Homo sapiens: one gene and its partner. The protein of the gene in region 2 purifies or fractionates together with the protein of the main gene of each other region. This does not show direct contact. Each region holds a gene or a part of one and is shown on either strand. Other genes may lie near its edges.

Region 1 (7,026 bases), on a different chromosome or scaffold from region 2:
AGGTGTGGTGGCTCACTCTTGTAATCCCGGCACATTGGGAGGCCGAGGCAGGCGGATCATGAGGTCAGGAGATCGAGACCATCCTCACTAACACAGTGAAACCCCATCTCTACTAAAAACACAAAAAACATTAGCCGGGCATGGTGGCGGGTGCCTGTAGTCCCAGCTACTCGGGAGGCTGAGGCAGGGAAATGGCATGAACCTGGGAGGCAGAGCTTGCAGTGAGCCGAGATCGCGCCACTGCATTCCAGCCTGGGCAACAGAAAGACTCCGTCTCAAAAAAAAAAAAAAATTGATGCATGGTGGGGAACAAAAATGAACTGTCAACTCAGAAATCTGTTTTGAGGCCAGGTGCAGTGGCTCACGCCTGTAACCCCAGCACTTTGGGAGGCCAAGGCGGGTGGATCACCTGAGGTCAGGAGTTCGAGACCAGCCTGACCAACATGGTGAAACTCCATCTCTATTAAAAAGACAAACTTAGCCGGACTTGGTGGCGTATGCCTGTAATCCCAGCTACTCGGAAGGCTGAGGCAGAATTGCTTGAACCCGGGAGGCTGAGGCAGGAGAATTGCTTGAACACAGGAGGCAGAGGCTGCAATGAGCCAAGATCATGCCATCACACTCCAGCCTGGGCAACAAGAGCGAAACTCTGTCTCAAAAAACAAAAACAAAAATTAGCCAGGTATTGTGGTGCACACCTGTAATCCCAGCTACTTGGGAGGCTGAGGCAGGAGAACTGCTGGAACCCAGGAGGCGGAGGTTGCACTGAGCCGAGATCACGCCACCACATTCCAGCCTGGGCGACAGAAAAAGACTCCATCTCAAAAAAAGAAATTTGTATTGAATGAAAATATCCTTGGGAGGCCAAGGCGGGCAGATCACGAGGTCAGGAGATGAAGACCATCCTGGCTAACATGGTGAAATCCCGTCTCTACTAAAAATACAAAAAATTAGCCAGGCATGGTGGTGGGCGCCTGTAGTCCAGCTACTCGGGAGGCTGAGGCAGGAGAGTGGCGTGAACCCGGGAGGCGGAGCTTGCAGTGAGCCAAGATCATGCCACTGCATTCCAGCCTTGGAGACAGAGCGAGACTCCCTCTCATAAAAAAAAAAAGAAAAAAAAAAGAAAAAGAAAATATATCCTTCATGGCTGGGCACGGTGGCTCACACTGAAGCGGGTGGATCACGAGGTCGGGAGTTCAAGACCAGCATGGTGAAGATAGTGAAACCCCGTCTCTACTAAAAATACAAAAAATTAGTCAGGTATGGTGGCGGGTGCCTGTAATCCTAGCTACTCGAGAGGCTTAGGCAGAGGATTGCTTGAACCCAGGAGGCAGAGGTTGCAGTGAGCCGAGATCATGCCACTGCACTCCAGCCTGGGCAACAGAGTGAGATGCCATCTCAAAAAAAAAGAAAATAACCCTCATATAAACACAGGGCAAAACGAAAACATTTTCAGGTCAAAAAAACCCAAAGGTCTGTGACCAACAAACCTACCTACAACAAAGGCTAATGGATGTTTTTCAGTCTGAAGAGAAACAACACCAGACAGAAATAGTCTGGGGGAATCCATGGGAAAAGTAAATAAGGAAGAAACTGTGAAGATAAGCTAAGAAGTACATAATATGCAACTATCACAGTAAATGAAATATTTTGTGATTGGTTAAAAAAAGAAAAACTGTCATGGGAATCCTGGACACAATGCAGGTCAGGAGACCAGGGAGGAGCCAGGGATGATTCTTTGAGTCAACTGTAGTCATATCTACAATTCATACTTTTTTTTTTTTTTGAGACAGTCTCACTCTGTCGCCCAGGCTGGAGTGCAGTGGCGCGATCTCAGCTCACTGCAAGCTCCGCCTCCTGGGTTCACATCATTCTCCTGCCTCAGCCTCACCAGCAGCTGGGACTACAGGTGCCCGCCACCACACCCGGCTAATTTTTTGTATTTTTACTAGAGATAGGGTTTCACCATGTTAGCCAGGATGGTCTCAATCTCCTGACCTTGTGATCCGCCCGCCTCGGCCTCCCAAAGTGCTGCGATTACAGGCGTCAGCCACTGCGCCTGGCCACTCTTATGAAATACTTTTTTTTTTTTTTTTTTGAGATGGAGTCTCACTCTGTTGCCCAGGTTGGAGTGCAGTGGCACCACCTCGACTCACTGTAAACTCTGCCTTCTGAGTCAAGCAATTCTCTTGCCTCAGCTTCCCAAGTAGCTGGGATTACAGGCACCTACCACCACGCCCGACTAATTTTTGTATTTTTAGTAGACGGGGTTTCACCATCTTGGCCAGGCTGGTCTTGAACTCCTCACTTCGTGATCCACCCGCCTTGGTCTCCCGAAGTGCTGGGATTACAGGTGTGAGCCACCACGCCCAGCCGTGAAATATTTTTACACTTACCTTTGGGCTCTTGGTCCTATAATTTTGAGCAGTGATCAGCTGTGACAAACATCTCATCCTATAGCAATCCAACCCAACTGTGATAGAGAAAGGCAATGCAAGAGGCAATTTGGGAATAGGGAAAATAAGAAAACGAGGAAAAGAGAAAAGGTATCGATGGCAGTAAGAGTAGAGGATGAAAAATATCCTGAGGGTCAATACCCAGGCCACAGATACCTTTTTCAAAAATGTTGCTGCTGTTTCTCTCTTTGTTGCTGTGATCCGCTTCACTCCATCCGGGGACTGGACACGAATTATCTGTTGCAAACAAAACATGATGGTTACTGCACAGCCTAGTGAGGTCCTGATCTAATACTACGGCTTCCATCTGTGGTCTTTTAGCATCTGGGTCACTGAAAATTAAAGCCAAACCTCACTCTTCACCTTTCAATACCCAGCTCAATCCTTCTAGAATATGATGCCGAGGGGTGAGATTCATCAACATATGGGGAGATATTTTAAGAGTACTGTCCTCTCAACTCTTAGTTTCACTCAGAAAACAACTTTAATTCCTAATCACTATTTATAGAGTATATGTAAAACACTTTTTGTCTCTTCAGACTTAAAACAGAGAAAAACCCACCATGAACCATGAATGAACTGTGTTCTTTAAAAAAGATGTTACTTTGGGGAAAAAAAAAAAAAAAAGATGTTACTTTGTTCCAGGATCTATATACAAACATTAGACAGTCTTCAAGAGTCCTACAATTTAAAAGAATCACAGGAAATTTTCTAATTGTTACTTTTTTTTTGCTTTTTTGAGACAGGGTCTTGCTGTCACCCAGGCTGGAGTGCAGTGGCAAAATCACAGCTTACTGCAGCCTTGACATCCAAGGTTCAAGTGATCCTCTGACCTCAGCCTCCCGAGAGCTGGAACCACAGGCTTGCACCACCACACCAGGTTAATTTTTTTTTTTGTAGTGACGGAGTGTCATATTTCCCAGGCTGATCTCGAGCTCCGGGGCTCAAGTGATCCTGCCACTGTGCTGGGATTACAGGTGTGAGCCACAACGCCAGCTATTACTTACTTTCCCTAAAAAACGTTTAAAAATGGCCAGACACAGTGGCTCACGTCTGTAATTGTAGCACTTTGGGAGGCCAAGGCGGTGGATCACTTGAGCTCAGAAGTTCAAGACCAGTGGGCAACATGGGGAAACCCCATCTCTACTAAAAATACAAGTTAGCCAGGCATGGTGGCGTACGCCTATGGTCTCAGCTACTTGGGGAGCTGAGGCACGAGGATCACTTAAACCAGGGAGGTCGAGGCTACAGTGAGCCAAGATGGTGCCACTGCACTCCAGCATTGGTGACAAAGTGAGACCCTGTCTCAAAAAAAGAGATTAGGCTGGGCACAGTGGCTCCTGCCTGTAATCCCAGCACTTTGGGAGGCCAATGCGGGCAGATCACCTGAGGTCAGGAGTTCGAGACCAGCCTGGCCAACATGGTGAAACCCCGTCTCTACTAAAAATACAAAAATTAGCTGGGCGTGGTGGCGGGCACCTGTAATCCCAGCTACCCGGGAGGCTGAGGCAGGAGAATCGCTTGAACCCAGGAGGCAGAGGTTGCAGTGAGCCAAGATCGTGCCATTGCGTGACGAAGAGCAAGACTTCGTCTCAAAAAAAAAGTAAAAATTTAAACTTAAAAAAGAAATTAAAATTAAAAGCAATAAAGGTCTTTAATGGTAAAATTTAGTAGGGTTTTGAAAAAATATTTTCAGCTGGGCACAGTGGCTCACACCTATAATCTGTGCACTTCAGGAGACCAAGGCAGGAAGATCTCTTTAGCCTAGGAATTCGAGATCAGCCTGGCCAACACAGCGAGACCCCATCCTAATTTAATAACGTGTGTGTGCATATATGCATATTAAAGTGTACATATATATATATATATTTTTTTTTTTTTTTTTTTTTTTTTTCCCCCACGGCAAGCCTAAAAAGGTTGGCAGATCTGGAAGACTACTGGACAAAGGGCATTACTTTCTAAGACAACTTGATGTTTATGCTGATGAAAGCCATCGTGAAGGTGAGTTATCATGCCTGGCCAACAGCACAGGCCCCTGCTTTAGACAAGGAGGATGACATGGCATGCTCTGCAGCAAACAAAGACCTGCTCCAACCATCCGCGGGACGGGAAGGAAGGCAGACAGGAACATGCGCATAAGTGTCCTAGCTTCTCCTCTCAGCAAAGACTGATGGTGCATTCTATAGCTTCTTTCTCTCTCATTTCCTGCATTACCATCTCTTGTATTTAGCTCATTTTTTTTTTCCCCGAGATGAAGTTTCAATCTTGTGGCCCAGGCTGGAGTACAATGGCGCAATCTTGGCTCACTGCAACCTCTGCCTCTTGAGTTCAAGTGATTCTCCTGCCTCAGCCTCCTGAGTAGCTGGAATCACAGGCGCCCACCACCATACCCAGCTAATTTTCTTTTTTTTGAGACAGTCTTTTTCCGTTGCCCAGGGTGGAGTGCAGTGGCGCAATCTCGGCTCACTGCAACCTCCACTCACTGCAACCTCCGCCTCCCAGGTTCAGGCGATTCTCCTGTCTCAGCCTCCTGAGCAGCTGGGATTACAGGCGTGCACCACCAAGCCCAGCTAATTTTTGTATTTTTAGTAGAGACGGGGTTTCAACATGTTAGTCAATCTGGTCTTAAACGCCTACCTCAGGTGATCCACCTGCCTCAGCCTCCTAAAGTGCTGGGATTATAGGCATGAGCCACCAACCCTGGCCTAGCTGATTTTTTATAGTGAAACATTTCAATTCCCTTATTTCCTTTTTTATTTCTTTTTTTTTTTTCAGCTCTTGTTGCCCAGGCTGGAGTGCAATGGCGTGATCTCGGCTCACTGCAACCTCTGCCTCCCCGGTTCAAGTGATTCTCCTGTCTCAGCCTCCTGAGTATCTGGGATTACAAGTGCCTGCCACCACGCCTGGCTAATTTTTAGTATTTTTAGTAGAGATGGGATTTCACCACGTTGGCCAGGCTGGTCTCGAACTCCTGACCTCAAGTTATCCACCCACCTGGGCCTCCCAAAGTGCTGGGATTACAGGTGTGCACCACCACACCCGGCCTCCCTTATTTCCTTTTTCATAAATTCTATAACTATTTTCTGTGAGGTTACCACGAGTGTTACATTAAACATCCTCTTCAACCATTATGCAGATGAAAACTGTCACAAGCCATTGTCTAAAAAAGATTTCCACTGATACAGGACAAAACACCATAAAGGCTCAGTCTACTGGGATTTGTCCGCTTTTAGTAAAGTAACTAAGCCTAATCTAGATTTTCCTAAAATAGGATAACCCTGTCCTGCATTTTCCCATAACTTTCACTTGGCAGAAAAGGCTCCACCCAATATGTTCTCAACTTTTAAGTCAGGAGATTGAGACCATCCTGGCTAACACGGTGAAACCCCATCTCTACTAAAAATACAAAACATTAGCCAGGCGTGGTGGAGGGCGCCTGTAGTCCCAGCTACTTGGGAGGCTGAGGTAGGAGAATGGCGTGAACCCAGGAGGCAGAGCTTGTGGTGAGCAGATCGCGCCACTGCACTCCAGCCTGGGTGACAGAGCAAGACTCCGTCTCAAAAAAAAAAAAAAAAAGAAAAGAAATACAATTCTTTATACTTCTAACGTCTAGTATACTTCATTCTAGATTCAATACCCCAGAAAAACGTTTTCACAATATATAGCATTAGGTAAATACTTCCACTTATTTGTTTCTAAAATCTGTCTGCCAACACTTAGCTATCTTAAAAAGGAAAGCTCTGTTCTAATGAAGGGGAACATGTGAATGTTCCTTCAAACGATGACTCTGGAACAAGAGCATGTTACCGCCATTCTTTACAGAGCTAAATGGTTCAGGCTGCAGAATTCTAAGGTGAAGAAGTCATCCTACTTGATCCTCTACCACAGAAGATGGGAGTCCAGGTTTCCAAGGCCAACTCCAGTATTTAACAAGAGACAAACATAATTTGTACGATGGAAAGTTCTGGCCTAGCCTCTGACACAGACTACAAAATGAAATACACAGGAAGAGACAGACCTGACAACATGAACACACAGCCTCTTGGTAACTTAAGTTTCCCTATTTATAAGAAAATAAGACTAGAACGCTTCTTGGGGAAGTTGAAGAACTGGTGAGATACAGTTAAATCCACAGAAACTCTTTTCTCCCCCCAAGACAGAGTCTTGCTCTGTCACCCAGAGTGGGAGTGCGATGGCGCGACCTCGGTTCACTGCAACCTTTGCCTGCCGAGTTCAAGCAATTCTCTTGCCTCAAGCCTCCCAAGTAGCTGGGATTATAGGCGCCCGCCACCGCGCCCAGCTAATTTTTTTTTTTTTTTTAAGAGTCTCACTCTGTCACCCAGGCTGGAGTGCAGTGGTGCGATCTCGGCTCACTGCAATCTCCGCCTCCCGGGTTCTAACTTTTCTGCCTCAGCCTCCTGAGTGGCTGGGACTACAGGTGCACGCCACCACGCCCGGTTAATTTTTTGTATTTTTTTTTTTTAGTAGACGTGGGGTTTCACCGTGTTGCCCAGGCTGGTCTCAAACTCCTGAGCTCAGGCAATCCACCTGCCTCGGCCTTCCAAAGTGC
Region 2 (7,026 bases):
GATTACAGACAGGTACCACCCTGCCCAGTTAATTTTTTTTTTTTTTTGGTATTTTTAGAAGAGGTGGGGTTTCACCACATTGGCCAGGCTGATCTCGAACTCCTGACCTCAAATGATCTGCCCCTGCTCAGCCTTCTAAAGTGGTGGGATTACAGGCGTGAGCCACCACGCCTGGCTTATTATTATTTTTTTGACAGGGTCTTGCTCTGTCACTCAGCCTGGAGTGCAGTGGTGTGAGTATAGCTCATTGCAGCCTTGACCTGAGCTTAAATGATCCTCCCACCTCAGCCCCACAAGTAGCTGGGACTACAAGCATGCATCACCATACCCTGCTAATTTTTGAAGTTTTTTTTTGTGGAGTTGGGTTCTTGCTATGTTGCTTAGGCTGATCTCAAACTCCTGGGCTCAAGTGATCCTCCTACCTCATTCTCCCAAAGTGCTGGGATTACAGGTGTGAGTCACTGCACCTAGCTTAAAAAGTTTAAATTGCAAACAAATCTCCATAGGCATGAACAGGGAAATGGATAATCCTTTCCCTTTTTAAGATTATCATTGTGTTGGTAAGGAAATGAACTCTTCTCCAAAAGAGTCCTGATGGTAGTGTATTTGTTTGATTTATAAAGGTTGACTTTTTTATTAGCTAAGTACTTCATTTGTCTACTTTATCTGATCAGTAGATCAGGCATGAATCCACTTCTTGCTGGCTTTTAGAATCACATGATTAAGACAAGAGCAACTACAGTTCAATCTTATAATTTCAAAGTTATTTATTCTGAGTGGTATAGAATTCAAAGTACCTGTTTTTCTCTAGTATACTAAGTGCCTTAAATAAGTTTCTAGATAATCTGAATTTTGTTAAGATATCAAAATTTTAAAGTATCAATCTAATTGATTGGCATTCTGCCATTAAAAGTGTTATAGAAAGATGACAGAGGCTGCTACAGTCACGCCATGCCTAGCTAAGTCTGTGCCAGCAGAGGCAGAGAGCTTGCGGTGGGCCAGTTGCCCCTGCTGGAGCCTCAGTTAAATCTGAACATCCCACTGTCCCAACCCTCCCACAGATGTGCACCGGGCTGTACTTTGGCTTAAGACTGCAGGTGGACATCTCCACTGCCCGGGAATCATGGAGTGTGTAGACAGGACAGCCTCCATGGAAGGCTGGTCATACCAGAGTCCCACCTTGGCACAGGCCTTGCCATTGAGGCAGCTCTACTGTCTGTGCTGGTCTGAGGGTGGGCTGCCTGTCATGGGGGCAGCCATTTCCCAGGGGGTGTTCATTGCCGTCATCTGCAACGCCTCATAGGCTTCTTGCTGCTTCTGCTCCGAGTCATTCTCTGCCGGGCCTACACTCTTGCTATGCCAATATTGACTGTCTCTACAGATTTAGTCCCAACTCCAGCCCTGGCCCCTATCCTGAAAAGGTACCACTGCCCAAGAAACCTAGCCATGAAGGCAGCTACCTGCTGCAGCCCTGAAGGCCCCTGGCTTAGCCTGGAGCTTGGGACCTAAGTCCATCCCACCCACATCCTGGAATCAAGATTCCAGGGTTTTAGCCAGACTAGGGTCTAGAACTTGGAGCCTAACCTGCTTGGATTGGACTCAGCAACCCTGAGTCTAGCCATACTGGTTCTAGGAGAGGCTCAGTGGCCCTAGAGAGATGGGCCATGGTGGGAGTTCATGAATTGCTGGTAGGGCCAGGGCCATCTGGACTCTGTTCTGAGTCAGGGGCTGAGTCTACCCTTTCCTTAGGCTAAGCACTTCTAGGTGGGGGAAGCAAACTGAAACCCATGGCAATAATGGGAGGTTGTCCAGGATGTGCCCCTCTCCTAGTCCTCCCACTGTTTGCTGAATAATAAATGGAACGGCTCTACCCTGGGGGTGTGTGTGGAAGAATTGTTATAGAAAGAATTATTTTCCCTTAGTCATTAAAGAAAATGTTTGTATTCTTTTTTTAATGTGGATGAATGTTTGCTTTTTTTTTTTTTTTAAATTAGATGCATTCAATATTCCAAGTCTGGACAGCATCAAGAATTATTACAGGTACTGTAATAAACAGAAGACAGACCACTATGTAGAGTCAGTGTTATAAGGAGGGTGTGGTCAACTCAATGAATGAGAGAAAACTTTAAAAAAACATTTTAAGAGGCAGGGGTCTCGCTATTTTGCCCAGGCTAGCTCTGAACTGAGCTCAAACGATCCTCCTGCCTCAGACTCCTGTGTAGCTGGGGCTGCAGGCACATGCTACTGTGCCTAGCTGAAAACATTTTTTAACAGGTAAAATTTTTCTATAAAGAATCTCTAGTAATTTAAAAAATGAGCCTTTTTGTCTTTTTGTGACAGATGCATTTCTTTTTGTTTAGAGTTTTTCTTTCCTTTAATTCTTTCTGTTTCATATACAGGCATACCTCGTTTTATTATGCTTCGCCTTATTGCACTTTGCAGATGTTGCATTTTTTCAAATTGAGAGTTTGTGGCAAGCCTGCCTTGAGCAAGTCTATGGGAGCCATTTTTCCAACAGCATGTGCTCACTTCCTGTCTCTGTGTCTCATTTTGGTAATTCTCACAATATTTCAAACTTTTTCATTATATCTTTTATGGTGATCTGTGATCAGTGACCTTTGATGTTACTATTGTAATTGTTTTGGGGTGCTACAAACCTTGCCCATATAAGTCCAGGAACTTAATCAATAAGTGCTGTATGTGTTCTGAGTGCTGCACCAATCAGCTGTTCTCCCATCTCTCTCCCTCTCCTCCAGCCTCCCCATTCCCTGAGACACAACAATATTAAAATTAGGCCAGTTAATAACCCTACAATGGCCTCTAAGTGTTCAAGTGAAAGGAAGGGCCCAACATCTCTCACTTTAAATCAAAAGGTAGAAATGATGAAGCTTGGTGAGGAAGGCTGTTGAAAGGCTTTCAGATAGGCTGAAAGCTAGGCCTCTTGAGCTGGAGCAGTGAGCCAAGTTGTGAAGGCAAAGGAAAAGTTCTTGAAGGAAATTAAAAGTGCTCCTCCAGTGAACAGATGAATGATTAGAAAGTGAAACAGTCCTACTGCTGATGTGGAGAACGTTTTCGTGTTCTGGATAGACAATCAAACCACCTACAACATTCACTTAAGCCAAAGCCTAATCCAGAGCAAGATCCTAACTCCCTTCAATTCTATGAAGGCTGAGAGAGGTAAGGAAGCAGCAGAAGAAAAGTTGGAAGCTGGCAGAGTTTGGTTCATGAGGTTTAAGGAAAGAAGTTAACTCCATAACATAAATATGCAGTGTGACGCAGCAAGTGCTGATTGATGGAGAAGCTGCAGCAAGTGACCCAGAAGATCTAGCTAAGATAATTGATGAAGGTGGCTGCGCTAAACAACAGATTTTCCATGTAAATGAAACAGCCTTCTTTTGGAAGAAGATGCCATCTAGGACTTTTATAGCTAGAGAAAAGTCAATCCCTGGCTTCAAAGGATGGGCTGACTATTGCTAGAGGTCCATGCAGCTGATTTTTTTTTGTTGTTGTTGAGAAAGTTGCACAATAATTTATTTAGGGCCTCCTCTCCCCACCCTTGCAGTCTCTAGGTCACTTTTTCCGCTTGTAGATTTTGCGCGCCAACCCCAGAAAGATGACTGGGGGCAGGGGAGCTGCGTACTGTTCAATGAGACCCATAACGTGGCTGTAACTGTCTTCCTATTATTGCAAGAACATGGCCGGCAGATCCAGCTCCTCATATACTGCCTTCACCGGGGCCACCTTCTCGGCCTCCTTCTGCCCAAAATTCTCCTTCAGAATCTGGTACTGTTCTGGAGTGGCCCGTTGCAGACACTGAACCACCAGCCAGCTGCATTTGTTGTCCTGGATGTCAGTGCCAACTTTGGCGGTCACATTGGGGTCCCCAAAGAGGTGAGGGTAATCATCCTGATCTGAAAGAACTCTCCCTCTCCCATCTCCAGCAGGATCTTCTTGGCATTGGTATTCTCCTTCTCTCTATCAATACCTGCATATACATGGCTGCAGCTACAGGAAGGTAGAAGGAGTAGAAACTGCCTTGTACGTGACACTAGATTTGTACCTCTTTTCAGTGAATCTGCCAAGATCCACATTGCCCTGGGGGGCTATGATGAGATCCAGGGTCTGCCCAATCTCAGTCTGATAGAAACTCTGCCGGAAGAGCTGGATCAGGTTCAGGTAATAGGGCTGCTCATGGCAATAGAGCTTCAGCAGGCGGTACATACATGCTTCCCTTCCAGAAGCATAGCAACATTGATGGCATCCAAACCCGCGCCCGGCTTCTGATATCAGCAGATCTGTCCCCAGTGGGTGAGGGATGAATCCATGATGTCATTTGCCACCAGGAAGAAAGCTTGCAGCAGTTCCACACACGAGCCCATAGTCAGGGCCCGCTGGAGACTCTCAGTATCCTGTTTCCTCGGCTCCACCAGCTCCCAGAATGCTACTAGCACCATCAAAGCCCAGTGATACTTGCCTCCAATGGCATTGTACTACAGGACCTCCGTGAGCTGGGTGATAGCATCTCCTGTCTCTGGGTGCCCCATCTCATCCTCAGTCAGCACCCTAACAATCTGGGAGAAGCACTGAATGAAATCCTGCTTTTCTTGGACAGAAATGTCTGATTTCTGGTCTCCATTCATTCTGAGGGAGGAGCAAAGGGCTCTGTTCCTGGATGTGGGTTCCTGCTCCATAGCTGATGACTTTAAGTGGAGCCAATGCCCACTTACCATTCTGAAAATCCTTGGGTGCTTAAGCGTTATGCTAAATCTACTCTGCCTGTGTTCTATATATGGAACAACAAAGCCTGGATAATAATAGCACATCTCTTTACAGCATGGTTTACTGAATATTTTAAGTCCACTATTGAGAACTACTGCTCAGAAAAAAATATTCCCTTCAAAATATCAATGGTCATTGACAATGCACCTGGTCACGCAAGAGCTCTGAGGAAGATGTACAAGGAGATGAATGTTATTTTCATGCCTGCTAGCGCAGTATTCATTCTATAGCCAATGGATCAAGGAGTAATTTCAACTTTCAACTCTTACTATTTAAGAAACACATTTCATAAGACTATAGCTGCCTTAGATTATGATTCCTCTGATGGATGTGGGCAGTCAATTGAAAAATTTATGGAAAGGATTCACCATTCTAGATGCCATTAAGAACAGTTGCAATTAATGGGAGGAGGTTAAAATAACAACATGAACAGGAGGGAAGAAGTTGATTCCAACCCTCATGGATGACTTTGAGGGGTTCAAGACTTCAGTGGAGGAAGAACTGTAAATGTGGAAATAGCAAGAGAACTAGAATTAGAAGTGGAGCCTGAAGAGGTGACTAAATTGCTGCAATCTTATGATAAAACTTGAACAGATGACAAGTTGCTTCTTATGGATGAGCAGAAAAAGTGGTTTCTTGAGAAGGAATCTACTCCTTCTAAATATGGTGTGAACATTTTTGAAATGACAACAAAGGATTTAGAATTATACATAAACTTAGTTGATAAAGCAATAACAGTGTTGGAGAGGATTGGATTTCTTTGGGTAAAATGCTATCAAGCAGCATTGCATGCTATAGAGAAATTCTTTTTTTTTTTTTTTTTTTGAGATGGAGGCTTGCTCTGTCACCCAGGCTGGGGTGCAGTGGTGCGATCTTGGCTCACTGCAACCTCCGCCTCCCGGGTTCAAGCAATTCTCCTGCCTCAGCCTCCTAAGTAGCTGGGACTACAGGCGCCTGCCACCATGACCCGCTAATTTTTATATTTTAGTAGAGACAGGGTTTCACCATATTGGCCAGGCTGGTCTTGAACTCCTGACCTCGTGATCTGCCCACCTCGGCCTCCCAAAGTGCTGGGATTACAGGGGTGAGCCACCGCGCCCGGCCAAGAAATTCTTGTGAAAGGAAAAGTCAATTGATGTAGCAAACTTCATGGTTACCTTATTTTAAGAAATTACCACAGCCACCCCAACCACCACCCTGATCAGTCAGCAGCCACCAACGTCAAAACAAGACCCTCCACCAGTAAAAAGATTTTGACTCGCTGAAGGCTCAGATGATCATTAGCATTTTTAGCAGTAAGGTTTTTTTTTGTTTTTTTGGTTTTTTTTTTGAGACAGGGTCTCTCTGTCACCCAGGCTGGAGTGCAATGGCGCGATCTCAGCTCACTGCAATCTCCACCTTCCAGGCTCAAAGTGATCCTCCCACCTCAGCCTCTCGGGTAGCTGGGACCACAGGCGTGAGCCACCATGCCTGGCTAATTACTGTGTTTTTTATAGAGACAGGGTTTCTAAATGTTGCCCAGGCTAGTCTTGAACTCCTGGGCTCAAGTGATCCACTCACCTCGGCCTCCCAAAGTGCTAGGGTAACAGGCGTGAGCCACCATGCCCAGTCAGTAGAAGTATTTATAAATTAAGGTATGTGCATTGTTTTTCTAGACATGATGCAATTGCACACTAAATAGACTATAGTATGGTGTAAACATAACTTTTTTTTTTTCTTTTGAGACAGGATCTTGCTCTGTTGCCCAGGCTGGAGTGCAGTGGCACCATCTTGGCTCACTGCAACCTCCACCTCCCTGGTTCAAGCGAGTCTCCTGGCTCAGCCTCCTGAGTAGCTGGGACTACAGGCATGTGCCACCATGCCTGGATAATTTTTGTATTTTTAGTAGAGACAGAGTTTTGCCATGTTGGCCAGGCTGGTCTCAAACTCCTGACCTCAAGTGATCTGCCTGCCTTGGCCTCCAAAAGTGCTGAGATTACAGGCATAAGCCACTACGCCCAGCCGTAAACATAACTTTCATACACACTGGGAAACCAAAAAATTCATGTGACTCGCTTTTTTGCAATATTTGCTTTATTGTGGTGTCAGGAACCACAATATCTCTGAAATATGCATGCAGTTTAATGCTTTGTTTTGGCTAATGGTACTTTTAATATTCCACACGGGCTTAAAAAATTGTTTAAGTCATTGATACATAGGAAAAGTCATTTATATCAGAGCTTGTCAGCCACACTACTGAGGTCACTG

Evidence for each region. Proteins that work in one complex are often made in the same cells at the same time.
Region 1: the proteins of TMEM62 (region 2) and NPLOC4 purify together in Homo sapiens (affinity purification with mass spectrometry; 2 studies listed by BioGRID and IntAct, with this or other methods). This does not show direct contact.

What each region holds. Positions count from the first base shown.
Region 1 is NC_000017.11:81,627,113-81,634,138, forward strand, and holds part of NPLOC4 (nuclear protein localization protein 4 homolog), read right to left. Parts: intron 2,694-7,026; coding exon 2,613-2,693; intron 1-2,612. UniProt on the Homo sapiens protein: The ternary complex containing UFD1, VCP and NPLOC4 binds ubiquitinated proteins and is necessary for the export of misfolded proteins from the ER to the cytoplasm, where they are degraded by the proteasome.
Region 2 is NC_000015.10:43,136,580-43,143,605, forward strand, and holds part of TMEM62 (transmembrane protein 62), read left to right. Parts: intron 1-1,994; coding exon 1,995-2,040; intron 2,041-7,026.